Homo sapiens: one gene and its partners. The protein of the gene in region 7 interacts with the protein of the main gene of each other region in a biochemical or structural test. Each region holds a gene or a part of one and is shown on either strand. Other genes may lie near its edges. The genes, in order: SNTG2, SNTG1, DLG5, ARHGAP21, ARHGEF11, PTPN3 and ADGRA1.

Region 1 (4,202 bases), on a different chromosome or scaffold from region 7:
GCAGCGACGGGAGCGGGCCTGCCTCCGTGAGTTTCGAGGCTGATGCTCAGCAGGGCTCTACCCTGGACCCAGGACATGGGGCAACTGCACCACTTCCTCAGGCGCCTCAGTACAGTCAGCAGGCTCGCTGAGACCAAGACCAAACCCCGAATTCCCTTGGTAACAGGAGCTACTTCTAATTCGATGAAACATGAAAAGCACTTTGTCAAGGAAAGAACAGTGCTCCTGAAATTCTGGAGTTATTGTCTGCAGGATTCTTACTGGTTATTCTTTCGAAGACCCTTTGGATGGAGCACTTAAAGCTCCTGATGGGGTGAGGCTGGAGCAGCCCAGCACCCTCTGCACTCAGCATCCACCCTTCTCTAGGACCACCTGTGTGCTTCTGATTGACAGGGGAGCTTTGGGAGAACATAGTCCCCTTCCACTGCTCCATGACACTCCACTTGCTGAGAACTCAATCATGGCAAAGTATTAACAACCAACCGTCTCAAATTCAGTAGTTCTTCCCTGTCATGCAATATTTTTTAAAAACATACTTTACATATGCCTATTTGCAAAAGAGAAATGTCATGTACACTTTTATAGACTTTTTCTTAAGAAAATAGTGCATATTGGCCGGGCGCAGTGGCTCACGCCTATAATCACAGGACGTTGGAAGACTGAGGTAGGTGGATCACTTGAGGTCAGGAGTTCGAAATCAGCCTGGCCAACATGGTGAAGTCCCATCTCTACGAAAAATACAAAAATTAGCCGGGCATGGTGGCACACACCTGTAGCTCCAGCTACTCGGAAGGCTACGGCAGGAGAATCTCCTGAACCCAGGAGGCAGAGGTTGCAGTGAGCCGAGATCACACCACTGCACTCCAGCCTGGGCAACAGAGTGAGACCCTATCTGAAAAAAAAAAGAAAAAAAGAAAACAATGCATATTAATGTATATGACTCATAATACCTCCATGGTCTCAAGCAGCTAACTGAAGATAAAATACAGAACAAAGCAAACATATTTTTTTAAAAAAATAAGTCATCACTAAGCTATGTTCTAATAATCTTTCAAATGTGAGTGTCATCGCTGCTTTCTTAGGCAAGGTGGGGTGTGTAGGAGAAGGGGTAGGAAACAGAGATGGTATAACACAGTTCTGCATATTTTTGAGCCAAATCTATCAGACCAGAGTTTGCTATTTTAAAAGTCATTCTTTTAAAAAGCTGACATCCCTGTCTAGGGGTCATTCTCATTCTAATTAGTGTTTCTTGAATCAGAATGTGAGGTTTATCTACTTGTGGCTGATATTCTGCCTGATGGCGATGAACAAGGTACTCTTGACTTGGCAGGAGGACAGAGGTGAAGGTGGAGGTGACTGTGTGGAGCCGGAGAGGGGAAGAAGCCAGAGGAAGCAGGTCCCCTGCATGGGGAGGGCAGGCAGCTCTGCCTCCACCTTCGCACAGCCCTTTCTGATCACCTTTCCTGGTCCTCCTGGGGAGCACCTGTCCCTCAGGATCCATCGCTTCCCGTGGGGCCTTTGGTCCTGGATGTCTGCTATAATAAATTAATTTTTACACTTCAAAATGCTGGGAGACTATTTTAGGCAGATTGTGTAATATTCCACATGAATTAGGTGCTTATTAAATATTGACAGACTTATATCTACACTTTTGTCCAAGTATCCATTAATTCTTATTAAAGTAAGTGCTAACTAAAAATGGGTTCATTGCCATCATTTCTCATTTGTTCATGTTAACTGGTGCGACATATACAAAGCAAGGCTGACCTTAATCTAGTGGTTAATAAACAGCTGGGTCAAGTAGATTATTGCGGACGACAGCCAAGTTCCCTGGCTCCCCACATGAAGAGGTCAGAGACTATTATTTTTAGGCATATTTTACATTGAGCTACAGGACACACACACACGCACACAACTCACCAGTGAACACCTCGATAAACAGTCATGTATTCCATACTCTTGGCCAACCAACTCTCAGACCAAAAACAGACTTTAGAAGAATCCTCAAAAGTTCCCTGTGTCCCATCCTCCAATTTTCCCCATCTCAGAGCTCTACGCTTTTATTCTTTCAGAAGAGCCTGTTCTTCTCCAAAGGCCTGGGGAGGAACAGGGGGTGGTGCCAGTGTGGGCCAGGGGCAGCTTTTCCTGGATCCAGCTAGACTAGGGGGCCTGCAGGGATCCTGGGGCAGCGTGGGGGTAAGGGTGCCTCCTCTCATGAATCGGGGGTGCCTCGTGGGGCCTGCAGGGACCTCAGGGCAGCGTGGGGCAGGGGTCCCCCCTCTCATGAATCGGGGGTGCCTGGTGGGGCCTGCAGGGACCTCAGGGCAGCGTGGGGCAGGGGCCCCCCTCTCATGAATAGGGTGTGCCTGGTGGGGCCTGCAGGGACCTCAGGGCAGCATGGGGTAGGGGCGCCCCCTCTCATGAATCGGGGGTGCCTGGTGGGGCCTGCAGGGACCTCAGGGCAGCGTGGGGCAGGGGTCCCCCCTCTCATGAATCGGGGGTGCCTGGTGGGGCCTGCAGGGACCTCAGGGCAGCGTGGGGCAGGGGCCCCCCTCTCATGAATAGGGTGTGCCTGGTGGGGCCTGCAGGGACCTCAGGGCAGCATGGGGTAGGGGCGCCCCCTCTCATGAATCGGGGGTGCCTGGTGGGGCCTGTAGGGACCTCAGGGCAGAGTGGGGTAGGGGCGCCCCCTCTCATGAATCGGGGGTGCCTGGTGGGGCCTGCAGGGACCTCAGGGCAGCATGGGGGCAGGGGTCCCCCCTCTCATGAATTGGGGGTCCCTGGTTGCGCGTGAGGGCGTGTGAAGGACACGCATGGTCACCGCTTGGCTCCAGCTCACATGTACTAACGACAGTGTCTTCTCAGGGAGTTGGCATTTCCTGATTCTCAGGGTTGGTGACGTATGCACCAAATGCATGGATGACTGAACACTGGGTGCTCTCAGCAGGGTCAGTACTGTGGTCATCCTCGTAAAGTCAGTGGTGAGAAGGAATCTGAGTCCAGAGTCCTAACTCTGCCTTTGGAGGTTTACACCATCATTGATGTAGCAGGAATAAGATGTGAGTAGAGACAGTGGACCCAGGCTCCATGAAGGACCCTTTATCGATGCTGTGGTCTTGAGAAAGATCATCAGCTTTGCCCCCTGAGGCAGTGAATGCACGTGGAGCCCCAGAGGCTCACGGACTCGCACGAGGGGCAGACGGCTGTGTCCTGCAATAAAAAGGAAGGCGTCTGCAGTCCAGGCACGTTTATGCCATAGCTTCATGAGGCAGGCTGGACATCTCACCTCTGAGCTGGGCTTTCCTTGTCCGTACGATGGGCTTCAAATGCCAACCGTACCACAAAATAGGAATACTGAGAGGAACAAATGGGATAACTGAAACAAAGTTATTTGTAAGCCCGTAAGTACCATATAAACATTATTAGTCTGTAATTTATCAAAGAAAGCAATAAAAATTAAGTATCAAATGAACAGAAACTGTGAAAGTTGTTGACATGAATGCTGATGGCAGATACTAACATGTTAATGAAACAGGGAAAGAAAGTTCACAGCGTGGCTCACTGTTGGTTCACTGTTTGGTTTATTGTTATAGAAGCCGGGTAACTAGTGTAAGTCACGCAATCTGCTTTCAGGCACGTCTGGATGCAAGATCAGGAGCCGCTTCTTCCAGGGCATTTCTGGGCCTTTGTTTCCTCCGAGTTTCACGGTTTCCTCCGAGTTTCCTCCGTGGCTCACAGTTGGAACCCGGCCTCTCTACCCGCCTCATGGTGGCCGCTCAGGCCTTTTAGGATGGTGTTCACGTGGCCAAGGTCATTATCGGAGCTAAAATTCACAGAGCATCTGCTGCTCAGGAGCTAACATGCTCTTTGATGGACACACATGAGATTGTAGGAAGCTGCTGTAAGCAAAGCCACACCAAGTGAAGGCAGAGCGCTTGGCACCCCGGGGTCCACCGAGAAGAAACCAAACCAGCTCCCAGACACTCGCCATCCATGGGGAAGTCAAGCACTGACTGTGTCGGCACTTTTGAAAAGTCTACCCTCCTCCCAGGGTTTCCTCGTGCCCTTAGAGAATTTTTCAATTCCAAAGAGAAAACTGAAAATAGACTTATACTCTAGAAAGTGAATCAATTCAGTTTTTGGCTAAGAGAAATAAATTTATTCCAATAACGTTCAAAGCACATGTCTTAACGTATTAGGAC
Region 2 (4,202 bases), on a different chromosome or scaffold from region 7:
GTGGCACAGTCTTGGCTCACTGCAACCTCCTCATCCTAGGTTCAAGTGATTCTCCTGCCTCAGACTCCCACGTAGCTGGAATTACAGGGATGCACCACCATGTCCGGCTAATTTTTGTATTTTTATTAGAAATGGGGTTTCACCATGTGGGACAGTCTGGTCTGGAACTCCCCAACCTCAAGTGATCTGCCCACCTCGGCCTCCCAAATTGCTGGGATTACTGACATGAGCCACTGCGCCCAGCCTCTTATTTTTTTTATAATGGCATTTACAATAATTTGTACTAATATATTTACTTGTGTAGTTATTATCTCTCATTGTTCCCTCCATAGATATTATAACCCCAAAACTACTAAAAAGTATTTATAATTTATCATTAGATTGTACTCTCAAACATATTATGTTTTCATTTTTTTCTCCCTTCAGACAGAGTAGGAAAATCAATAAGCACAGCATTTATCATCCTTTTAGCTTTCTGAGCATCTACTGGCAGCAAGGGTCAGAGCTAAATTCTACAACCCTGGAAGTAAATGCCTTCCATTAGCTCTCTTCCAGCAATTATAAGAATGCAAGCAGGAAACAATGAAAATAGTTATTATTTTTTAAACATTTGCCAAAGCAGAGAATTCCATCTAACATTTTGGGTGTTTAATAATGATACACTTACATCCCTCCTTATGAGAAATGATTACAGATACCAGTGATTAACCCTTTGACAATTTTCAGTACACTGCATAGATATAGCATATATACAGTCATTTAATAACTGAGATATATTTCAGGAAATGCCTCTCAGTTAGATGGTTCCACTGTTGTACAAACACCACAGAATTTGCTTGCACAACCTGAGACAGCATAACGTACTGCACAGCGAGGTTATACAGTACAGCCTATTTCTCCTAGGTTACACACCTGTATAGCATATGACTGTATTGAATACTGTAGGCAAAAGTAACATAATGGTAAGTAGTTGTTTAAACACATCTACACATAGAAAAAGTAAAGTAAAAGTACAGTCTAAAAGATTTAAAAAAAAAATGATACACAGATACAGGGCACTTACCATGAATGGAGTTTGCAGAATGGTAGTTGCTCTGGGTGAGTCAATGAATGAGTGATGAGTAAATGTGAAGGCCTAGGATGTTACTATACAGCACTATAGACTTTATAAATACTGAGCACTTAGACTACACTACATTTATAAGAAGTATTTTTTTCTGCAATAATAAACTAAGCTTAGCTTACTGTAACATTTTTTACTTTACAAAGTTAATTTTTTCAACTTTGGCCTTTTTTGTAGAAGTGCTTAGCTTAAAACACAAACACATTATGTAGCTGTACAAAATTATTCTATATCCTTATTCTCTACATTTTTTTTCTACTTTTAAATTTACAAATTACTTTTTTATTTTTGGCTTTTTAAAATTTTTATAAAAAATAAGACAGAAACACACACATTAACCTTGGCCTGCATATAGTCAGGATGAGTTCCATCATCACATCTTGTCCCACTGGAAGGTCTTCAGGGGCAATAACACGCATGGAGCTGTCATCTCTTATGATAATGATGCCGTCTTCTGGATACCTTCTGAAGGAACTGCTTGAGCCTGTTTTATAGTTAACTATATTTTTAATAAATAGAAGGAGTACACTAAAAAAATAGGAGTACAGTAAATACAGTAATATTTACTGTATTACTATAATACAGTAAATACATAAACCAGTAACATATTCTTTCTTATCATCATTATTATTATGTAGCATACATCATAATCGTATGTGCTAGACTTACACAGCTGTCAGCACAGCAGGTTTGTTTACACCAGCATGACCACAAACACAAGAGTAATGCATTGCTCTATGACATTACAACGGCTATGACATTGCTAGGGGATAGGAATTTTTCAGCTCCCTTATAACCTTATAGGATCACCGTCGCATATGCAGTTCATCATTAACCCAAACATCCTTATGCGGCACATGACTGTATTTAAAATGCTATATCTGACATGTTGCATTGGGTTACTCTGTTTCATAAATTATTTGCTTCACTTTTTTTTCTCATGTTAATGTCTCTTAAATTGGAATATATGTAAATTTGTGAACACTTCAGTTGAAAACTTCTGGTAAGACCAAGAAATTGCCAGCATCAAAGTCGTTTTTTTGATACAATGAAATACAGTTACACAAGTAAGGTAAATAATGCGTTTTTTTTTAAGCAATATTATTGCTGTAGACAAATTAGACTCATTTTCTTTTTCATTTCTCATGGAGAAGAATATTTTGGTTTGCTTATAAAGTTCCTTAAAATTTACAAACATGTTCACAAGCATTATTTAATTTCAACATCATAACAGTTATGTAAGGAAGGGAAGAGATAGTGTGTCACCCCTTTGTAGAGTAATAAACCAAGTCTTGTATGTTAAATGCTTTGGTGGTTATATTGTTAGTAAGAGATGAAGCCAGAAACCCTAACTTCTATTTTATGGACATGCTTCAGTGTAAAGACAGAGAAGTCATGTGTTGGGGCTTTGAAGCCCGGAGTTCTGGTATAATGTCTAATGAAGACTTGGTGAATTCGCAGAGTGTTGTCTTTTTACCTGTGGCTTCTGCACCTTGGTCCAGTCAGGAATGGCCAGGTTAGCAATGTGAAGTGATGTGTGCCAGCCTGTGTAACTCCAGGTTTTCACCAGGACAGTGACCTGCTGGACCGACGGAAACAGTGCTTCACCGTGCAGTCTGAGTCTGGGGAGGACCTGTACTTCTCAGTGGAGCTGGAAAGTGACCTCGCCCAGTGGGAAAGAGCCTTCCAGACAGCAACCTTTCTAGAAGTAGAACGGATACAGGTGAGAGTCTGTGGGACTGCAGGATGTGTGGCTCCCTCAGATGCATGACCACTTCCCTAGAGTTCTAATATCATTCCAAAGTAGTGTAAAAATACAGTTCTGGGAATCTTGACCTCATATACATTCTATAATTAGCCATTTTTGTTTAGTGACTAGTAATACAGCTCTGAATAAAATTTTAATTTTTCCACGACTTGATCTTTCCAGGCTATTTCCTACTACTAATTAAAAATATATTTCTAATTTTAATTAGACATTACTCTGACTTAAATCTAATATAGAAAATACTCTGATTTAATGAATTGTTGACAAGGTCACTTCCTGTTCTCCAAATATGACCTCCTAATTTCCAGCCTGTTGGCGTCATTTACTCACAATGCTCTTTCCCTTTGCCTCCATCCTTCAAAGCCACACAGAGTTTTTGAGACTTTTTATCAAAGGTCATATCATCCAGGAACATGTCCCTGATTTCCAGTCCACCCTGCCTAATGCTTGCCAATACTCCTTCTACAACTATCCTGTTCAAACAACTCTTCTTCTCACTTTTGAACACAATATAATGTACTTTTCTGGTTTTTTTACAGATAAGAAAACACAAACTAATCAATTGTATTCATACTACTCATGAAAAGCAATTACATTTTTACATGAAGTCATTAACACATACAACAATAAAAATCATAAAAGTAATACATCTGATTAGAAATACAATATAGGAAATAGATTTTAAAATAGTGTAGTTTAGTGATAAAATTTATACTGTGTTTTCTACTTATTTATAGCAGCATCTATAAGATTCTTCTATTTATTTGTCTTTTTTTTTTAAGGATTGCACACACTCAGTCTGTTTTGTATTGCAGTGACATGTGCTTGTTATTCCCTGCACTAAATTATAGGTTGTTTGGAATTATCTTATCATGTGCCAACCAAAGTCCAGTGCATTTTGCACATCATGAGTATTCAACAGATATTTATTGAACTTTGTTTCTTAAGTGTGAAGTTATACACTAGATCAAACTTTATAGAGCCCTCAGCTTCTGTCTTCACAAGACCATTGAACAAAACAGCCTCCCAAAGTTGGTCCTGTGGCTGACCTCAAACAGACCTGTGGACAAATTAAAAGGTTTTCATGCGCTTGCCACATGCAAATAGATCCATAGAGCAAGGACCTAAATACACACATGGACACTTAATTTTGAAAACAAATGTGGTGAATAATCTAGCATTGACTATACTGGAATGTTTGCGTAAAACAGGATTGTTGGATACATATATTTTGAACATGTTGAACTGATTTCTATTTTCTGACTACAAACCTCTGTAATCAACACATCAAGTTGTACCAGTATGACATTA
Region 3 (4,202 bases), about 55 Mb from region 7:
TATGTAATGAGGTGACATCTCTTCCCTGCTTAAACTCTACAGTGGTCTCCACTGTCCTTAGAATAAAATCCAAACTCTTCATCACCGCTGCAGGTCCCACAGGGTTTGTGCCCTGTGACCTCAAACCTCTTCTTGACTCGCTGCCCCTTTGACAAGCTCCCACGACTGTGCCTGGGTGCCCTGGCCTTGGCACCGATGGCCCTTCTCCCTGGAGGCTCCAGCCCAGGTCTTGTGCAGCTGGCCTCTTTCATCCTTCTGGTCACAGCAGCATCCCCTCTGCCACAGGGCCCTTCCTGACCACCCACTCTAACTTGCCACCCTCTTCCAAGTTACAGCCCAGCCTGTCACCCTGTTTGACTGCCTTCATAGCCTCTTGGCACCATCTGATATCACTTCGTTCATTTTTTTTTTTTGTCTGCCTCCCACATTTGAAAAACCACACGACATGAGCTAGAAGCTAATTTGTTTAGTTCAGCAATGTATCCTCTTATAATTAGGATAGACCAAGGCATGTAGTAGGTGCTCAAAAAATATCTGTCAAATGAATGAATAAGAGTGGCTTGGAGCCAGCCCACCCTCTTATGAAGTACCAGTTTCCTCATCTTCAAGACAGAAACAGTAATAGGACTTAGCCCATGAGGTTGCTGTTGATTCGGTGAAATGATATTCATAAAGGTCTGAGCACAGTGGCTGGGACATAAGCACTCAAACATCAGCTGCTATCACTATCGTGTCCTTCCAGTACCTTTTGAAACCTTGTGCTGATGAATTCAGAAAGCAGCCCTAAGGCTCCCTTTCCCTGTGCTGCTCTAGCCAGTCCCCTCCCAGGCAGGCAAGGAAGCTTCTCCACCAATGAGCCTCTTTATGCACTCATGGTTCCATGTCCAGGCAGGCTTGGGCAGCTGGAGTACAGAGAAGCGTAGGGTGCCTTCACATACCTGGGATGCAAACCCTGGGGGCCAGCATCTCGGGCCGCAGGTGGAGAGCTGCAGGGGCCGACCCTGTGACTGCGCACAGTGTAGATGGGGTTCCGCAGGATGGAGCTCACAGTGGTGCTGGGGGTCAAACTCCGGGGAACAGTGCCTAGAAATGGGCTTGGTGAGAAAAGACGCCCCAAAGGACCCAGCCAGCCCAGGACTTACACAAGCCTTTCCCCTGTATCCCAGGACGCAGCCGCAGTCTTTTGGGAAAAGGACTTGGGAGATGAGTTTTAACCACCAATTCACAATGTGGCTGTGGCTCCTGGCCTGTCTCCATTTGTAAAAAGGGGGGAAGTCTCTTTCATGCTTCCTATTTCCCAGGTTGCTATGGGGAGAAAGCATGTTGACAAGCTAAGACATGTCATGGCTATAAGACAAACCATCCCAGACAGGACAGCATTTCCCAGTTCTCTGGACCTCAGGGCTGAAAACACATGGCAGCTCTCTGAAATGCTGCCTCCCCTCTCCCTGGAGACTAGGCATCCCGAGTTTACACCGACCCTCAGCCCCAGCCCCTGGCTGGCTGACTCACCCACAGACGGCCTGCTAGGGTATAGCGGGGGGTTGCTGTGCCGGCTGGAATGCCCAGGCGAGTAAGGTGCCCACTCCTGGAGCTCCGGGGAGAGTTCTCCACTGGCCGGGACACACTTCTGTTCCTGCAGATGCAAGGGCAAGAGTGTCTGCTAGAAAGAGTGGAGTGTGGCCAGGCGCAGTGGCTCACACCTATAATCCCAGCACTCTGGGAGGCCGAGGCGGGCAGATCACCTAAGGTCAGGAGTTCAAGACCACCCTGGCCAACATGGCGAAATCCCGTCTCTACCAAAAATACAAAAATTAGCTGGGCATGGTAGTGGGTGCCTGTAATCCCAGCTACTTGGGAGGCTGAGGCAGGAGAATCGCTTGAACTCGGGAGGCAGAAGTTGCAGTGAGCCAAGACTGCACCACTGTACTCCAGCCTGGGTGACAGAGTGAGACTCCATCTTAGGGGAAAAAAAAAAAAAAAACCAAACAGTGGAACGCTTGAGCAGCTCTGCAAGCCAGTTTCTGCCCCCCAGGAACCAGCTCCTCCCACTGGGGCACAGGAAGGGACATGAATGGGAACGCTGCCCATTCATGTTGCCTTACACATCTTCAAGGAAGCAGCTTTACTTCAGAAGAAAACCACAGAGAATGAATCTTTCACAGAGATCACGTAAAAGGTGAGAATGCACAAGTGCATCAGGCACGTACAACTCTGCCCGATGTGGAGGGCTGTGCGAAGCTCTTTGTCCCCAGTGAGCAGTGTGGACTGGTGCCTGAGATGCTTTCCACAGTCCCCAGCAATCTCACCCTTCTGGAAACTATGACAGCACACGCAATCAGGCCGTCCCGCTGCCCACTCAGCCTCACACGTGCCACCTCATCTCCCTAGCCCTTCAAGGCAAGTCTATGCCCTAGGTTTTATTGTGTAAGTTCAAAAGCTTCTTATTAAAAAAGCAAACCAAATGCTATGCCCAATAAAGTGTTCCCCTCTTGTGTCACACTCCCACTACCATGCACTTCCACGCCACTTACCTACCTCCTAGCTGGGCCACTTCCCACTTGAGTCCAACAGCAAAGGCAAAGGCACCAGGCTAAACAGGGGCCTGGGACACTGGTGCAGGGCCACTTAGCAGCCCTCCTTCGGCCAACTGCCCCTCTCTAGGCCTCCCCTCCCCACACCCTGGGGCTCAGCTATACCTCCAGGAACTGAGCAGGAATCACTACTGGAGCAAGCTTCGGCCGAAAACTGGGAGCAGATTTTGGCCGGCGACGCTTCTGCCCCAGCTCATCCACCTTCTGGGAGGTGAGGTCCTCATCACAGGATTTCTTGGCCGGCAGGTGGGAGGAGTCCCCATCTCCTTCAGGGTAGTAGCTGGAAGCAATGCGGACCCTGGCCTTGCGAGGGGGTGATGCGTGCATGGGCTCCCCGGGGTCCACGTCAGGGGGCAGGGCGCTCGGGGGACTAGTGGATGGGGAGCTGCCCACCAGAGTGGCTTCTGACTCGGAGCTAGTCTCCAGCCTGTGCTGGAACTTAATGGAGTCGCTCCTTCTGGGAGGTTTTGGGGGTGTCAGAGGCCCCGCCCTCTTGGAGGGCTGGGGAGAGTGAGCAGGCCCAGGACCTGGAAGCAGGTAGTCTATTTTGGGGGGTGTCTGGGGGCGTTTGAAAGTGTTAGGGTCAAAGATGGACTTTCTTTGCTTTGGCTTTTTATAAACAGAGAGCTTCTCAGGCACTGCCGTGGAGCTGAGCATGGCCTTGGGCCAGGTCCCGCCGCTGTTGGAGCCTTCAGAGTCTGCCTTGTCCAGGGAGGCCTCCCCAACCCCACAGGGGCCCACCTCGGTCTCAAAGGGCAGCAGTGGCCGCCGGCCACGCACGTCCACCAGCCCAAAGCCACGGTCCCCAGAGGCATCTGAGCGGAAGGAGCTCAGGCTACGCTCAGAGGCACTGGGACAGGCCTGGGGGCAGACCTGCAAGGGTCCCCCAGGGAATGGCTTATGCAGAAAGGAGCTGCTGCCTCCTGGGGGGCCTGGCTCCTTCCTGTCTTCCAGCCTGTCCGTGTAGAAGATGTCTGTCTGCGTGGAGTTATTGTGCTGTATCAAGTTCCGTTTGTTATGAGCCTGGACCTCCGGGCCATGGGCTCGAAAACTCAGCATCTTATCAGAGTCTTTGATATTTTCAAAAATGTTCTGGCCACTCCACGAGGAGCTCTGAGGGAATACCTAGGCAGGGATTGCAGAGGAGTGAGAGAGAGAGTGAGATGGCAGGACTTGGAGCTGCCACTGAAAACCATCCCCAGAGGTAAAGCAATGGTCAGGAATGGGCCACCTGCCCCTTAAAAAAGAGACAGATAGACAGAGATGCACACACACATGAACACATATGCTTCTCCCTAATGGATAAGTTTTCTCATGGCTCTGGTCACTCTGAACTCAAAGAAGAGTCAAAGTTTTCTTAACTTTGAACACTTTCTGAAATTATCTGGGCCGGGCACAGTGGCTCATGCCTGTAATCCCAGCGCTTTGGTAGGCTGAGGCAGGCGGGTCACGAGGTCAGGAGTTCGAGACCAGCCTGACCGATATGGTGAAACCCCATCTATACAAAAATTACAAAAATAAGCCAGGCACGGTGGCATGCACCTGTAGTCCCAGCTACTTGGGAGGCTGAGGCAGGAGAATCGCTTGAACCCGGAGGTGGAGGTTGCA
Region 4 (3,089 bases), about 110 Mb from region 7:
TTTGTCAAATCTCTTTAGACTTCTTTAATCTAGAACAGTTTCCTTAACTCTGTTGCCAGCAGATGAGATTTTAAACCAGAGAGACCTGTTTGAAATCCCTGCTTTTCCCTTCTCTAGATGCATTTTTCTTAACCTGTTATTACAGTAGCCTTTTCATCTTATCCATAGTGGTGTTATGCTATGCCTGTAATATAGTGGATATCCCAATGACATGATTAACTACTTCTAACAAACAGTCTCTGTAGAAAAGTAGAGTAATTTGCCTCAACACATATATGATCATAGAATTGTAAAGAGAACCTTAAGGAAATCTGAAAGACAGTATAATCTAATTGCTTCTCGCCACGGAACTGAGATGTTTAAAAGTGAATCCCTTGCTCGTACCCAGCAAGCTAGAGAGGATGGACATCAAGGTCTCCCAATTGAGAGCCCAGTCACAACCATTATCCCCTACAGTCTTCAGCACAATGTGGGGAAATGTAAATAACCATTAGAAATGTGCTGGATAATTATGAAAGTCTTTATAACTTGTAAAAACAAAGTTCTGTTCATCTGTGATTTCATCTTAGCGAATTTTTGATAGAACAGCCTAAATTCTTTGATAGAACAGCCTAAATTTTTACTTTAAGACTTTAAATAGAGCAGTTTTAACTTGTCTAAGATTTGCAGGCAATAGAGAAATATACTGTCTGTTTCTATTACTCAGCATACCTCCTGCCTACCTGCTTGTCTTAAAAAGTGTGTGGTAAACCAGCAGATATTTAGGAAGAAACTAATAGTTGCAATCAAGAACCTATTATATCTAGATGCAGTGGCTCATGCCTGTAAATCCTGGCACTTTGGGAGGCTGAGGTGGGAGGATAGCTTGAGACTAAGGCTTCTAGACCAGCCTGGGCAACATGGTGAAACTCCATCTTAAAAAATTTTTTTTAAAAGAACCTATTATACATAGCAAATAACTTTCCCAATAACACTGCACTACAGTGTTTCTGTGGTAAGGATTTAATTGTACTTATGTTAATTGATCTTTCCTTTCTACCTTCCTGGGGTGGGTTCTCACTCTGTCACCCAGGCTGGAGTGCAATGGTACCCTCATGCTCACTGCAGCCTTGACTTCCCCAGGCTCAGGTGATCCTCTGACCTCGGCCTCCCAAGTAGCCAGGACCACAGGTGCGTGCCACCATGCCCACTTAATTTTTTGTAGAGACAGGCCTTCACCATGTTCCCTAGGCTGATCTCGAACTTCTGGGCTCGAGCAATCTGCCCGCCTCAGCCTCCCAAAGTGCTGGGATTACAGGCATGAGCCACCACACCTGGCCTGTTTTTTGAATATTCTAATTCCATTGTTACCTTGAGATAAATGAAGACATTACCAACCTGATTTACTTAAGGCAGATCCTTGAAGATCCTGCCTGAATGAACTAATGGAAGACCAGAGTTCCCTTATCTCAATGAGCTTATCTGATACAGTATCTATATCATGTGGTACCTGTAATTAGAAAAATCAAAGTCAGTCATAAACATTTAATAACCTATATCAGAATGTGATGTTTAATAACCTATATCAGAATATGATGTTTGACCGTGTCACAATATTGTTTTACCTATCCCATGCCTCTATTCCAAATGAAGGAAGTGAAGAATGCCTGGGCACTGTGGAAGGAGGGAAGGTCAGGTGTTTGGGGGATTTTGATAGGAATCAGCACTAAGCACAGACTATTTTCCTGAAAGGCAGATGTGTATGAGCTGTGGCTTGGCAGTTAAATACCACGAGGCAAGAAATTGGACTCATTAAATAAAAATTTGACTTTGGTTCAAGGTAAAAAGAGGTATTAAAAAAAAAGCTAATTGCACTGTTAATGCTTCCAGAGCTTTAGTAGATATAATTTGATAAGAAATATTTGGGAGACAAGCTTGTCAGAAAATGAACTCAGCTGCATTCTTATGCTCAGAGTCTTTCTTCTCTCTTGCTTCCCAGGGTTCTTGGGGATCTGGAAAGGATCAGTATAGCAGGGAACTGCTTGTGTCCTCCATCTTTGCAGCTGCTAGTCGCAAGAGGAAGAAGCCGAAAGAAAAAGCACAGCCTAGCAGCTCAGAAGATGAACTGGACAATGTATTTTTTAAGAAAGAAAATGTGGAACAGTGTCACAATGATACTAAAGAGGAGTCCAAAAAAGAAAGTGAGACACTGGGCAGAAAACAGAAGATCATCATTGCCAAAGAAAACAGCACTAGGAAAGACCCCAGCACGACAAAAGATGAAAAGATATCACTAGGAAAAGAGAGCACGCCTTCTGAAGAACCCTCACCACCACACAACTCAAAACACAACAAGTCACCAACTCTCAGCTGTCGCTTTGCCATCCTGAAAGAGAGCCCCAGGTCACTTCTGGCACAGAAGTCCTCCCACCTTGAAGAGACAGGCTCTGACTCTGGCACTTTGCTCAGCACGTCTTCCCAGGCCTCCCTGGCAAGGTTTTCCATGAAGAAATCAACCAGTCCAGAAACGAAACATAGCGAGTTTTTGGCCAACGTCAGCACCATCACCTCAGATTATTCCACCACATCGTCTGCTACATACTTGACTAGCCTGGACTCCAGTCGACTGAGCCCTGAGGTGCAATCCGTGGCAGAGAGCAAGGGGGACGAGGCAGATGACGAGAGAAGCGAACTCATCAGTGAAGGGCGGCCTGTGGAAACCGACAGCGAGAGCGAGTTTCCCGTGTTCCCCACAGCCTTGACTTCAGAGAGGCTTTTCCGAGGAAAACTGCAAGAAGTGACTAAGAGCAGCCGGAGAAATTCTGAAGGAAGTGAATTAAGTTGCACCGAGGGAAGTTTAACATCAAGTTTAGATAGCCGGAGACAGCTCTTCAGTTCCCATAAACTCATCGAATGTGATACTCTTTCCAGGAAAAAATCAGCTAGATTCAAGTCAGATAGTGGAAGTCTAGGAGATGCCAAGAATGAGAAAGAAGCACCTTCGTTAACTAAAGTGTTTGATGTTATGAAAAAAGGAAAGTCAACTGGGAGTTTACTGACACCCACCAGAGGCGAATCCGAAAAACAGGAACCCACATGGAAAACGAAAA
Region 5 (3,500 bases), on a different chromosome or scaffold from region 7:
GGGAATAGAGCTGGAGGCATGGGCAGGAAAAGCAGTATGTGATCTTCTTGGGACTGTAGCTGGCACGTGGTAGGGGCAGGTGGGAGACCCAAGTCAGAGCCATTGGTATATCCCCCTGCTGCCACATGGCACATGACTTCACAGTTACCTTTTTGCTTGTCTTCATCCCGCACAAGAGAGTAAGGGCAAGGACTTTTTCTTATTTACCAATTCCCAGCACCTTAACACAATGTCTGGCACACAGTAGGCTCTCAAACACTTGAATGAATGAATGAATGAATGAATGAATGAATGGTGTCTCCTTAACAGAGCCTGGATCTTACAACCAGAAAAATGATCCATGAGGGACCCCTGACCTGGAGGATCAGCAAGGATAAGACCTTGGGTATGTGCCAGGGGACTGGGACTGAGCAGGAACCTGTAGTGGGTGGGCCTCCCTGGGCTCTTCTGTCTTTCCCAAGCATGGAAACATGACTGGAGGTGATAGCTCAGGACATGGGAAGGGAATAATCAGAGAGAGAAATGGGGTCACCAGACTCCCAGGACTTCCTAGAGCCTCCAAGAGCCTGTGGCCCTGCATTGTGCTCATGAGGGATGAGTAGGCACCAGGGAACACCTTCCCATGACCATACCCCTCCAGACCTCCACGTGCTGCTGCTGGAGGACCTCCTAGTGCTGCTACAGAAACAGGATGAGAAGCTATTGCTGAAGTGCCACAGCAAGACTGCTGTGGGCTCCTCAGACAGCAAGCAGACCTTCAGCCCCGTGCTCAAGCTCAATGCTGTGCTCATCCGCTCTGTGGCCACAGGTACCTGGGGAGATGGTCCAGGCTGGCCTGGGGCTCAGGGACCATGTCCAGCAAGTGCTGGGTGAGGCAGGGCCAGTCTGGAGCCTTTACAGGACCTACCTGTCCACCTGTGTTCCTTTCCTCCTGTCCTGACCCAGCCTAAGTGGTAGGACTGGCCCAAAGTGGGGTAGGATGAGGGTTAGGATGGGGACCAAGAGGAAGACAGACAACCTGGCACAGGGGTGGTCAGCAGTCCCCAAGCACAGTGCTGGATGGGATGTGCACACCCAGGATGGGTGAGAGTGTCTGAGCAGGATTGGGAAGAATGGGATTAGGCAGAATGAGTAGGACAAGCCTTTCTGCTACAGAGTGACTTGGGCAGAGCTTGGTTACAGAAGATGTTAGTACCCACGGTACAGAGCTGGGTCCAGTGGACAGGGACATTTCAATGAGAAGTGTAGTGTGTGTGAGAAAGGGCTCTGGAGCAAAATTCTCTGGATTCACTTTCTTCGTCTGTAAGATAGGAGTGATACCTACCCTACCTCTTGTGGGCATCAAAAGGGATGACGGGTATGAAAAAGTTTTATAAACCCTTGACCAGGCACTGTGGCTCATGCCTGTAATCCCAGCCCTTTGGGAGGCCGAGGCACTCAGATCACTTGAGGTCAGGAGTTCAAGACCAGCCTGGCCAACATGGTGAAACCCTATCTCTACTAAAAATACAAAAATTAGCCAGGCATGTTGGCAGGCACCTGTAATTCCAGTTACTCGGGAGGCTGAGGCAGGAGAATCACTTGAACCCGGGAGGCGCAGGTTGCAGTGAGCCAAGATGGCACCACTACATTCTAGCCTGGGTGACAGAGCAAGAATCCGTTTCAAAAAAAAAAAAAGTTTTATAACTCCTAAGCACCATACACCTATCAGCCATCACTGTTATTAGAGCAGGAGAGGAATGGGGGTGGCTGTGGAAGATGACATTAGGGGTCCTGGAATTTCCTCTGTCCCTTATGTAAGTGGGTTCCAAGTGGTCCTGAAGATCCACATCTGTCTCGTGCTGCACTCTCCATCTGCGTTGAGGGTCAGGGCTTTGAGTCCCACTCTGTCACCCTGGCCCAGGCTGCAGTCACACCTGCCATCCCTAGTACAGACCCTTCTACCTTCCTTTCCTCACACAGATAAACGGGCCTTCTTCATCATCTGCACCTCCAAGCTGGGCCCACCCCAGATCTATGAGCTGGTTGCATTGACGTCATCAGACAAGAACACGTGAGAATTGATTGAGGGGTTACCCGTAACTGTGGTCCCTTTCGGACCAGGGTGGTGTTTATGAGGACAGTGGGTAGCAAGGCCAGGTTTGGGCCCCAAAGCAGTCCCTGGACAAGGGGTTGGGAAGGAAGTGGGAGGTAGGACAGAAGTAGAGAAGCTGGGAGGGGTCATCACCCCCGACCTGGTCACCAGGCCCGCTTCTGGGAGAATGAGCTTCTGGCAGTCTTCCAGCCGCTGCTGCTGCTTCTTTCCTTCCTGCCCTACTCCCTTCACCATTAGGCAGATTAGATTCATGCATCCTTCTCAGGCATTTGCCTCCCACCCAGCCCATGTTCTTTGACAGCAGCTGCCAGAGGTGGCATGGTACAGTGGAAGGAGACAGGTTGAGTCAGACTGTTTCCCAACTCCAGGGTTTTCATCTGTAAAATGTGGCTAATGCTACCTGTTAGAGGATTACTTTAGAGGGAAAACATAGAATGCTTTGCACAGAGTGTAACAGAGGGTTGGTGTCCAGGATTTGGTAGCTGCAAGTAATATAACCGCAAGGGAGCAGCCAGGGAGGACTGTACAGGGAGGTGGGCACCTGCCAGGCAGAGGGTTCTTAGGGCCTGGAAGCCCTGTTCCAGTGGGCTCAGTACGGGGTGGTGCGTGCTGCTATCTTGCTCTCACTACAGTCCTCTCTGTTCCTGCCGAGCAACAGATGGATGGAGCTCTTAGAAGAGGCCGTGCGGAATGCCACCAGGCACCCCGGAGCTGCCCCAATGCCCGTCCATCCTCCACCCCCAGGTCCCCGGGAGCCAGCCCAGCAGGGCCCCACACCCAGCAGGTGCAGTGCTTAGCCCTCCAGACCCTGCACTCTCTCCACTCCAAACCTCCTGTTTCCTGCTGCTTTTAAGCCCTTCGCCCCCGTGGGTAGACAGCCACAACAGGGAAATGCTAGCAGGGAGCAGACAGCTCCAAGTGCTGGCAGATGGAGGAACATGCCCCCTGTCCCTGCTTCTTGTCCCTGTCTGCTCCCCCACAGCCTGCCACCTGGCTATAATAGAGCTGAGCCTGAAGAAGGGTGAGGGGGATGTAGAGCAAGGGACCAGAGAAGCTCAGCTAGCAGCCCCCCTCCTCTCTGGGTTGCCAAGCAGACCAGCCAGGTGAAGAGGCCCACACCGTCCTTCTCGGATCCTACTCCATTGCCCATTCTAATGCATGAGTCCAGGGTGGAATCTCATGGGATCTCATCCTGTGTTGGTTTCCTTCCTCAGGGTAGAACTGGATGACTCAGACGTGTTCCATGGTGAACCTGAACCTGAGGAGCTGCCTGGAGGTAAGGGCCCTGAACTGTCCTGTGGGAGCCAGCCCAGGCCTTTTTCTGTAGGCACAGGTTGGGTGTGAGTATGGGGGCGATGGGAGAGTCCATCAGGGCCCGGGGTGTGAGGTTTTGATAAAGAGTAGA
Region 6 (4,202 bases), on a different chromosome or scaffold from region 7:
TAAGTTCTATTTTCCCTCACAGTTTTTCCATCTTCCCTTTCTTTGTTAGCCATTTCTCCTCAGGACTGTCAGGGCCTCCATGATTTGCAATCCCCCTGGGCCTGGATAATCAATAATGCTGTGTCCAAAGCAGAAGTAAAAAGGCTCTTGTGACTCCTCAGGAGAGGACCTATAAATAGCCACAGGAGCTCCGGGCCACGAGTGTGGCAACATCCAACCCCGCTGTTCCCCTGGATCCAGTCCTGGGCTCTCTGGGCCCCTGGCATTGCTGCCGATGAGATTTTCAGATAAATTAAGCTGCTGTGTTATAGCATAAATTTACCTCTTTAGAATGAGGTATCTAAATGTTGGAAACCAAGAAGCAAATCTATTCAGTTACGTCATGATTTCTAACACTAAATACTATCACTGTCCCTTCCCAGAGCATTAGGCCCCCAGTGAAGGGGTCCTTCCCTAGCAGGCCCAGCACAGCATCTCCTCTGTCTGCCTGTCTCCCAGTTTCTCTTAGGCTTAGCAGATCCTGGATCAGGTATTTACAGCCACGCACTCTTACTCCAGTGTGGAGCTGGGGGCAATGATTCCCTGCTAGGTTTCCCCTCTGGCCCCTAGCCTTTTTGGAGGTATTCACAAAAATGGTGTGATGTCTTTGAGGACCATTATAATAAGATAATGATAATTCCACCTGACTCTTTTAAAAGCTTACTACGTACTTGTACATTATTATTTCATTTGCGGTAGTTTTTATCATCTTTTTAGATATGGGGAAACTGAGGCTACAGAGGTAAAGAAACTTGTTAATTAACAGAAGGGCCAAAACCTGAGTTTAGGTCTTTCTGCTACAAACCCAGTGCCCTTCTCACTTTACCAAACGACCACCTATTTCTTTTTAAGCTGAGTCCATCCTCTTAAGTTGGCCTGCTACTTACTGATGTGCATTTGCTTCTGCTGCTGAAGGTCATACATCCTTACATCATTTACATCACGTACCTGCGTTAGTTTTCCCTAAAGTTTATTTTGTGGGATATTAATGGAAAACATGAATTAAGTAAAGCTAACCGTACTTTTTTATTATTGGACGTCTCAGAGTGTTTAATATGCTAATGTGTGCTGTGATTCCAAAGGAGGCCTTTCAGCAGGCTCGAGTTTCCCAAACTATTTAGATTGAATAAGTTTTTTTAAAAAGAGCATCTCAGCATTATACACGATGGAAAACATTTAGCTAGACTTGTGTACTTCATGAAAACAGTTACTTCTGCCAAGAGCCTAAAATGCAAATTGTAGGTCATCTATCTTTAGGAGTTTATAAGTTGAGTTTTTATTTTTAAAAGAGATAAAGTGTCTACTGTTGGGTAGTACAAAAAAAAAAAAAAGGAGGACATACCAGTTGGGAGTAATGGGAGGGGAACGAGAAGGCAGACTCTTGGTTTCTAAGTGCTCCACTGATAAGGATCTCCGCATGGCTGGGTTCCACACCATCCCGCCAATCACCTTTTTGCAATATTGGTTATTTACCGACCTGAAAAACCAGATGCAGGTTCACTTTCTACACTGACGTTCAACAGGAAAGAAATTACTGCATGTGTGAAACAGTCTACACATGCTTCTTGTCTGAAGGACGGCAGGTTAATGCCAAGGTTATGGGGAGTAGAGGGAGACAGCTCAAAAGCGATTCCTGTCTGTCCTGGAATTTCCTTATGTGATTTCTTCTCTTCGGGTGAAAATCCTTTCTTGTCCTCACTACTCAAGCAACAAAGCTGTTTCCAGAATATAACCAAACCTAACCAGATTAGAAGGAATTCCAGGATCACACAGAAATACAGCTCCAGTGATTTCAAGGAATTCTTATTTTATTCACACTGGCCTAAGTAAAAATATTAACCATTTTTTCAGGTGCTCTTCATCATCCTAGCTGGCAGGAGCTGTCACTATAAATCACTGGTAAATCTTTGAGAGAGAATCTGAAAATGCGCTTAGAAAGTAGTTTCAAACTGGGCACAGTGGCTCATGCCTGCAATCCCAGCATTTTGGGAGGCTGAGGCGGGTGGATCACTTGAGGTCAGGAGTTCAAGACCAGCCTGGCCAACATGGCAAAACCCTACCTCTACTAAAAATACAAAAAATTAGCCAGGTATAGTGGCGCATGCCTATAATTCCAGCTACTTGGGAGGCTGAGGCATGAGAACCCCCTGAATCCCCGAGACAGAGGTTGCAGCGAGCCAAGATCGCACCACTGCACTCCAGTCTGGGGAACACAGTAAGACTCTGTCTCCAAAAACAAAAAATTATACAGAGTTTCAGGCTACGTTCTTTGAAATGTGCTACCCTGAAGGTTACTTTTGAATTTTATTTATACCTAGAGAATTTAAATCTTAGCTATCTAGACCCCTCAGAGAATGAATTATTTGAGAGAATAGAGCATGAAGCCTGTCACCCTGTTAAAGGGTGACAACTTTGGTTCTGGCATCTCTAAATTTTAAACTAGGATTTAATGTCTTATGAAAACATTCTACACATTTCCTTGTGACATGACATCAACCAACCAACAAAAACAAAACAGAACAAAGAACAAACAAAAGAACATAAACAATATGAATCGCCCTGTAGCACATCATGTACTAATTCACATTAAGAAATGCTGTTGTCACCCTGATCAAAATGCTCACAACAGCATCACTGGGAGACTCTTTCCTCTGAGGCAGGCCTACATCAGAAACCACACTGCCAGTGATGAAGAGCACAGGATCAAAACAAGGGGAGCAAACTGCCCAACTCCAAGGTTTAATGTGTCATGGGTTATTAATAGGGACTCTCTGAAAAAAAAGTGTTCCATTGTCCCATAAGCTTGGAAAATAACCCAACAAATTTCTTTTTATGTGGAACCTTTCAGAAGGCCCAATAAGCAGATGTGTATCTGTATCTCTAGGGGCTGGGCAAGTCATGTGACCCTTCTAAGCCTCAGTGTCCTCATCTGTAAAATGGAGGTAATGAGACTTGAAATTCACCAGTATGCTGAAGCTGGCACAGGTAGTAAAAGAACTGCTGACTTGTCCTCCCAAGCCATCCTCCCAACCCAAATGATCCCCTGTGGCAGATTAAAGATGACTGCAAGTTCTTTGAGTCTTGCATCTGGGTTGGCTTGTGACTGCTTTCAGCAACAGAGTCGCTGTGCCAGTGCCAGGTCTCACCCTTAAGAAGGCTGAACGGTTCTGCCTTTCGCTCCTGGAACCCTGAGTGTCCATGTAAGAAATTCAACCACCCTCCTGGAGTATCCAGATGGGGATGCTAAGGAGTCCAGGTGAGTCCAGCCTTCCAACCATTCCATCAAGACACCAGGTATGCAAGAGAAGTTATCTTGGATCCTCTGGCCACATTCACTGAGAAATCCCTATCTACACCACACAGAGCAGAAGAGGCCTCTGGCCAAGCCCTTCTAGGATTCCTGACTCACAAAGTCATGAGATATAACAGAATGGGTGTTGCTTTCAGTCACCAAAATAGGGGTATTTTCTTGTGCCACAATACAAGACCAGAACCCAGCCCTGCTGGCATTGGATGCATGCAGATGACAAAGCTTTGCAGATGAAGAAATAGAAGCAACAAATTAAAGCTCAAGTGACAGAGGCAGGATTTGAACCCAGGCAGCTCAGCAACAGAGGGCATGGTTTCAGTTGCCTCCCCATTCCTTCTCTCATCTGGCCTGAGGATCAGGCCCAACCTAAGTCAATGATATAATCCAGTAAGTTATTTTCATGGCTTGCTCAACAGTAGATCTACTGAATGTATACAAATACTAAACAGTATTATAAGAGCTAAAAACTTAATATATTCACTCTTGGTTCATCAGAAGCTGAGAGATAGCATTTAGCACCACAAATAGTATCACTGATACTAACAGAAATTAGCTACTTATTCAGTTTACAAGTTCCCTAATGATTATCAATGTATTAGGAAAGTAACTGGAACAGTCTGATGCAGTTCCACCTATCAGAAAGATAATGGCTCAGACACGGGTCTCATTTAGTTAGTAATAGCCACATCAACAACAAATCACGAAAACAATTTTGAAAAACCAACAAATGATTTAGAAAATATGGCCTGGCACGGTGGCTCATGCCTGTAACCCCAACACTTTGGGAGGCCGAGGCAGGCAGATCACCTGAGGTCAGGAGTTCGAGAGCAGCCTGCCCAATGTGGTGAAACCC
Region 7 (4,751 bases):
CCCTTGCGGAGACAGGCAAGTTCACATTTGCTTTTGCTCGTTAACAGTGGTGACGGAGACACAGCTTGCAGAAGGAGGTGCCCCAGCTTTAACCACTGGACAGGTGGCCTGCAGGTCCTCCAGAGGGGAGCAAACTGTCCATCCTGTAGAGCACCATGGGCCGACAAACCAGCCTTTTGAGAGGACGGCCTGGCCCAGCCAAGCTGCTGGACAGCAGCTCAGAATCCAGGGCTGACTCATGCCTTTGTGCCTGGCCAGGAGCGATGCCACCAAAGAATCTGACCTGTGACCTGTGCCCTATGCCCTTACACTTGGGAGCTCAGCAGGCAGCTTGCCCCTGGCAGGCGTCAGGAGCCCCCCAGAGCACAGCAGTGGGGCAGGCAGAGTCAGGGCCACCCTGCCCTGGCCACGGCCTCCAGGCTTCCTTCTCAAGACCCCATGGCCATGGGGTGAGCCTGCCCAGGTATCTACGCTGTGAACTTGGAGACACGTGCTGTGAATTACGCTGTCACACTACGCTGTGAACTTGGAGACACATGCAGAAAAATGCTGCACCAGACTGATGCAGCACGGGAGGGCAACTCCTCACACTTTCAGAGATTTTCTCAGGTGCAAATGTTACTTGTTGTGAATAAAAACAGTGAGCTGCTGAAATGCCACACTCTCCAGGCAGATCGAGCTCAGCAGGCTTTCACAGTCTTGGGTGAGCAGGAGCTCTGGGCTGCCAGGCCGGCTGGGACCGGGTGGCCCCGGGCCGAGGAGGTGGTAGCAGGAAGCTCCACCAGGAGCCAGGAGCTGAGAGGAGAGTGCACGAACAGGCTCAGCCTGCGAGGGGTGGTGCCCTTCTTGGATTGGGGAGGCCCCCGCACAGTTGTTCGCAGAAGGGCCAAGGGTTAGAGAGGAGGAGGCGAGGAAGGGGATGAGAGGGACCCCCGGGCTGCGGCAGCACCCCCACCTTCAGAAGCCCTTCTCCGTTCACTGTCCTCTGTCAATGACAGTTTTCCATTTTGCAAATAAGGGTCTCAATTTGAGGCTGAAAAGCCACAGATCCTGCCAACTGGGAGGCCTGGGGCTGCGCTGGGTGTGGTACCTGCGGGGCAACAGCGATGGTTCCTGAGGCTGGTGGGAGCCTGGGGGCAGGCAGGAGCCCTGGGGCTGGCCTGCTGCCCCCTGAGGTGCTGCTGGTGCTGGAGACGCAACCTTGTCAGGTGTCTGAAAGGTAAGTGCGGAGACCTCAGCCAGCCTCAGAGGTGAAGCAGCCACTGGAAGACGATACTGAATGTTGGCAAAGGCATCTCTCTTGCTTGGACATTTCGAACGGAACAAGAAGAAAATGAGCAAGTGACTCAGACCGATGGCTCCTTATGCAGCGAACACTGGGTCTGCTCCGAAGCACGCCAGCCGGCGTCTGTGGCGGCCGCACATTCTAGAGGCCATTGGCATTCTCTGCACGTGCCCTGGGTCCTCACCGCCTGTCAGCTGTCCCTTACCAGCACACACAATGCATTGTTCACTCAGCTGTCAGCCCTTCCGGAACCCAGACATTCAGCAACTGCAGCAAAAGCTTGCTGGTGCCTCAGGGAGGGACCCACGATGGGCTCGGCTAGCCGATCCAGCCAGCTGCCAGCCACGAGCCCCTTCCCGCTGAAACACCCTTCCCGTGCCTGCCGTGTGCGCGGCCGCCTTCTCTCCGCCACAGCCTCCACTGCTGAAGCCCACCTACGTCTGTCCGCACTGCCTTTCATCAACTTTCTAATGGGAAGGGGCCGGCAGGGTGGCGTGGAGGAGGCCGGTGACCAGGGTGGAGGGGCTTGGGGTGGCAGGGACCCCAGCCCAGGCACAGACCAGGTTTTCACAGGGCACGGATGCCAGCTTTGCGGGAGGGACGTCGCCTCCATTGATTAAATGATTCCACATTGCCATATGCCTGCAACTCATTAGTATGATCAGCACCCAGCACGCGGGGAGCAGAGGTGCCCAGACACGCGGCCTGTCCCCGGCCCCCACTCCACAGAGCCTCCCACCCCGGCACTGAGCCCGGAAGCCCGGTCACCAGCTCGCCATTCCACAACTTTTCCAGCCTGGGAGTCCCCATACGGGTGGCCGCCCCCCCGCAGCGGCCTAGCCCCCAGCTGCAGGACCCCCGGGACCCCCGTACTCACCATGAGCGCTGCAAAGTTGCGGAAGCGTGAGCGCCGCTGGAGGAGGCGTCCAGGGGGAGGCGATCAGGTGGCGCCCTGCTCCCCGCCAGCCTCCATGGCCTCTGGAAGGTCAAAGTCCCAGACGGCGGCCAGGAGGTCGCGCTCCCGGGCCCCTGGCCTCAGGGTGACCGCGGCGGGGCGGGCGCAGTCCGGGAGCTGCTCCCATCTGTGAAGACAGCGGCGGTCAGCGGGGCGGGCGGAGGGTCCCCGCGGAGGGCAGCTCGCAGCCCCGACCCCGCCAGGGAGCAGCCGCGGCCCCTGTCGCTCCCTCCCCTCCGCGGGCGGCCTGGGGGCTGCGCCTGGGGCTGGCGGAGGCGGTGCCGGTGGGGACCGGTGGGGGGCTCGGACCGAACGCGCCAGCGGCAGATGCGTCTCCTTCTCCATATTTAAAAATCAATCTGCGCCCCACTCCCGGCTCCGGAGCCAAACTCAACCATCTCGGGCTGCACAAAGCCAGAGGCGCGCCGGGGGGTTTGCACCGGGAACCGGCACCGAGTGACCCGCCCGCCCCAGCCCGGCCGCGGCGCCTGCTCTGCCTGGATGTGGCTCGAGCTCCGGGCCGGGCGCGCGGGGCGGGGGCCCTGGATTATCCGTGGCGCCTCCCGCCCCAGCGGAGCCGAAAGTTACTCGGAGCTGCTTTCCTCGCGGCCAGTGTCACCTCGGGGCGCGAGCTTTTCTGCCGAGCCGCGGCCCCGCGCGTCCCTCCCGCCGCCCAGACCCGCGCGTCCTTCCCACCTGCTGTGGCCGAAGCGGCTGCCGGGGCGGCCGGGCCGCGCTCCCGGAGACAGACGCGCTGCGCTCCCCCCGCCGGGGACCCGCTCTCCATTCGCGAGGGCAGCGGCCGAGCTGGGACCGAGTTATCAACAGATTGCGGGGCTGCGGCGCCGGCCGGTGAGTCACAGCCCCGCGCACGAGCGGCCCAGCCCGGCCAGCAGCGCCGCCGCCTCTGCGCGCACCTCCCGCGGCGACAGCGGGGACCCGGGGCCGGAGGCAGGCGCGTAACCATGGGGACCGGGGCGGGCGATGGCGGCGGGCGGGCTCCTGCCGCAGGGTGGGGATGGCTCTTCCAGCCGGGCGGCCGCCGTCACACTGCAGAGCGTATTTAAAGAGACACCTCGCTCCGCGCTCGCTCCCCAGCACCAGACCCTCGCCCGAAAACGCCGCCGGGCGGACTGCACGACCCTGTGTTATTCCCAAAGACAATCTCCATCCGTGGAGAAGCTGCAGGAACAGAAATATACACAAGAAAATGGATTTGGAAGGAATTTTCCATCCTTTATTTAACATTCTCAAGTCCAGATATGCCAGAACCGAGGTGCACCTGTCGTGAACCCGTCTGAGTGTGAGTCAGCAGGGCAGCCGCAGCCGGTGTAGACAGACAGGGCCTGTGGCTGTGCAGAAAGCGTCCCTGTCCCCCTACCCCAACCCTCCTGCATCCTGGGCCACAGAGCTGGGCATCCAGAGCCAAGGCGAGTGTGGAGGCCAGGGTGCCAGGGGCGGCGCAGCCCAGCCTCCCACCCGCAGCGAGGTTTGGGCTCTGCACACATCCCACAGGTCCCTATCCTGCCCCAAGGGGCCTCCTACCCGACAAGGTGGGTCCAAGTCCACTCCAGTTTTCGTCACAAACTCCGTTTTCTGGGGCACGTGCTGGCCTGGTGGCAGCCTCAGCAAGAGTCTCAGGAACTGCCCTGGGGGACTCCACACCCCTCCACCTGTTCCCCCTTTGGCCCTGGGTGACCCCACACCCCTCCACCTGTTCCCCCTTTGGCCCTGGGTGACCCCACACCCCTCCACCTGTTCCCTCCTTGGCCTCCACCCTTGCATGGCTACTTCTGCCCCAGGTTCTGTGACACTGGCGCCTGTTCAGGGGGTCCCCAGGCCCTGCTGCCATGGATTTTGAGGGGCCTGAAGGATGTACTATTGGGAGGTTGTCATGAAGACTCACAGAGGCAGAATTAGATGCAGGGGTGACAGCGTTCCGCTTCCCCGGCCTCTCATTATGGGGCTTTTGAGCGGGATGTGCTCAGGGCCCCACTGCCCCATCTAGCTGGTGTTCCCAGAGCCCCTCTGTGGGGACACTGTGCTGGTCCCTGAACTCCAGCTGAGGGACACAGGGTCCAGGCAGGCGACGGTCTAGTTCCCAGCTGGAGACGCTCTAGGCACCCCAGGACCTGGCCGCCCTGACTCCCTGGACACCGTTCCCTTGGAGCCTCGGAGCCCCCCCTGGTGTCCCCTGGGTGATGGTCCTGGACAAGAGGGCTGGGAAGAAGCGGGCAGCAAGGGGAGGATTCTGCCCCAGACGTCCCCAGGCCGGGGGTCCCCATGGGCTCTGCCCTGACGTCTTACTCCTGCACCCAGCGGCTCCCACCACAGAGACTGCTCCAGGTGAGGGTACCACACTGAGCACAGGTCAGCCTGTGTCTCCCGGGAGGCTCCTGGCACATCACAGTTGGGGCCCAGAGGAGGCCCCGGCCGGTGGGGGGAGTGGCCCTGGCTTGTCTCTTTCCCTGCACACGGACTGGAGCCCTGCCCTGAGTCCCACGGGGACTT

The links.
Region 1: the proteins of ADGRA1 (region 7) and SNTG2 interact in a test that uses a peptide from one of them, tested with the Homo sapiens proteins (one large-scale study listed by IntAct).
Region 2: the proteins of ADGRA1 (region 7) and SNTG1 interact in a test that uses a peptide from one of them, tested with the Homo sapiens proteins (one large-scale study listed by IntAct).
Region 3: the proteins of ADGRA1 (region 7) and DLG5 interact in a test that uses a peptide from one of them, tested with the Homo sapiens proteins (one large-scale study listed by IntAct).
Region 4: the proteins of ADGRA1 (region 7) and ARHGAP21 interact in a test that uses a peptide from one of them, tested with the Homo sapiens proteins (one large-scale study listed by IntAct).
Region 5: the proteins of ADGRA1 (region 7) and ARHGEF11 interact in a test that uses a peptide from one of them, tested with the Homo sapiens proteins (one large-scale study listed by IntAct).
Region 6: the proteins of ADGRA1 (region 7) and PTPN3 interact in a test that uses a peptide from one of them, tested with the Homo sapiens proteins (one large-scale study listed by IntAct).

Annotation. Positions count from the first base shown.
Region 1 is NC_000002.12:1,233,654-1,237,855, reverse strand, and holds part of SNTG2 (gamma-2-syntrophin), read right to left. Parts: intron 1-4,202. UniProt on the Homo sapiens protein: Adapter protein that binds to and probably organizes the subcellular localization of a variety of proteins. May link various receptors to the actin cytoskeleton and the dystrophin glycoprotein complex.
Region 2 is NC_000008.11:50,701,907-50,706,108, forward strand, and holds part of SNTG1 (gamma-1-syntrophin), read left to right. Parts: intron 1-2,667; exon of another isoform or gene 2,668-2,693; coding exon 2,694-2,846; intron 2,847-4,202. UniProt on the Homo sapiens protein: Adapter protein that binds to and probably organizes the subcellular localization of a variety of proteins. May link various receptors to the actin cytoskeleton and the dystrophin glycoprotein complex.
Region 3 is NC_000010.11:77,818,383-77,822,584, forward strand, and holds part of DLG5 (disks large homolog 5), read right to left. Parts: intron 3,720-4,202; coding exon 2,700-3,719; intron 1,637-2,699; coding exon 1,513-1,636; intron 1,306-1,512; coding exon of another isoform or gene 1,223-1,305; exon of another isoform or gene 1,084-1,222; coding exon 939-1,083; intron 1-938. UniProt on the Homo sapiens protein: Acts as a regulator of the Hippo signaling pathway.
Region 4 is NC_000010.11:24,584,996-24,588,084, reverse strand, and holds part of ARHGAP21 (rho GTPase-activating protein 21), read left to right. Parts: intron 1-1,978; coding exon 1,979-3,089. UniProt on the Homo sapiens protein: Functions as a GTPase-activating protein (GAP) for RHOA and CDC42. Downstream partner of ARF1 which may control Golgi apparatus structure and function. Also required for CTNNA1 recruitment to adherens junctions.
Region 5 is NC_000001.11:156,941,243-156,944,742, reverse strand, and holds part of ARHGEF11 (rho guanine nucleotide exchange factor 11), read left to right. Parts: intron 1-309; coding exon 310-385; intron 386-640; coding exon 641-808; intron 809-1,962; coding exon 1,963-2,053; intron 2,054-2,753; coding exon 2,754-2,879; intron 2,880-3,309; coding exon 3,310-3,371; intron 3,372-3,500. UniProt on the Homo sapiens protein: May play a role in the regulation of RhoA GTPase by guanine nucleotide-binding alpha-12 (GNA12) and alpha-13 (GNA13). Acts as guanine nucleotide exchange factor (GEF) for RhoA GTPase and may act as GTPase-activating protein (GAP) for GNA12 and GNA13.
Region 6 is NC_000009.12:109,421,337-109,425,538, forward strand, and holds part of PTPN3 (tyrosine-protein phosphatase non-receptor type 3), read right to left. Parts: intron 1,517-4,202; coding exon 1,382-1,516; intron 150-1,381; exon of another isoform or gene 1-149.
Region 7 is NC_000010.11:133,086,324-133,091,074, reverse strand, and holds the start of ADGRA1 (adhesion G protein-coupled receptor A1), read right to left. Parts: upstream 3,152-4,751; 5' UTR 2,937-3,151; intron 2,368-2,936; 5' UTR 2,166-2,367; coding exon 2,163-2,165; intron 1-2,162.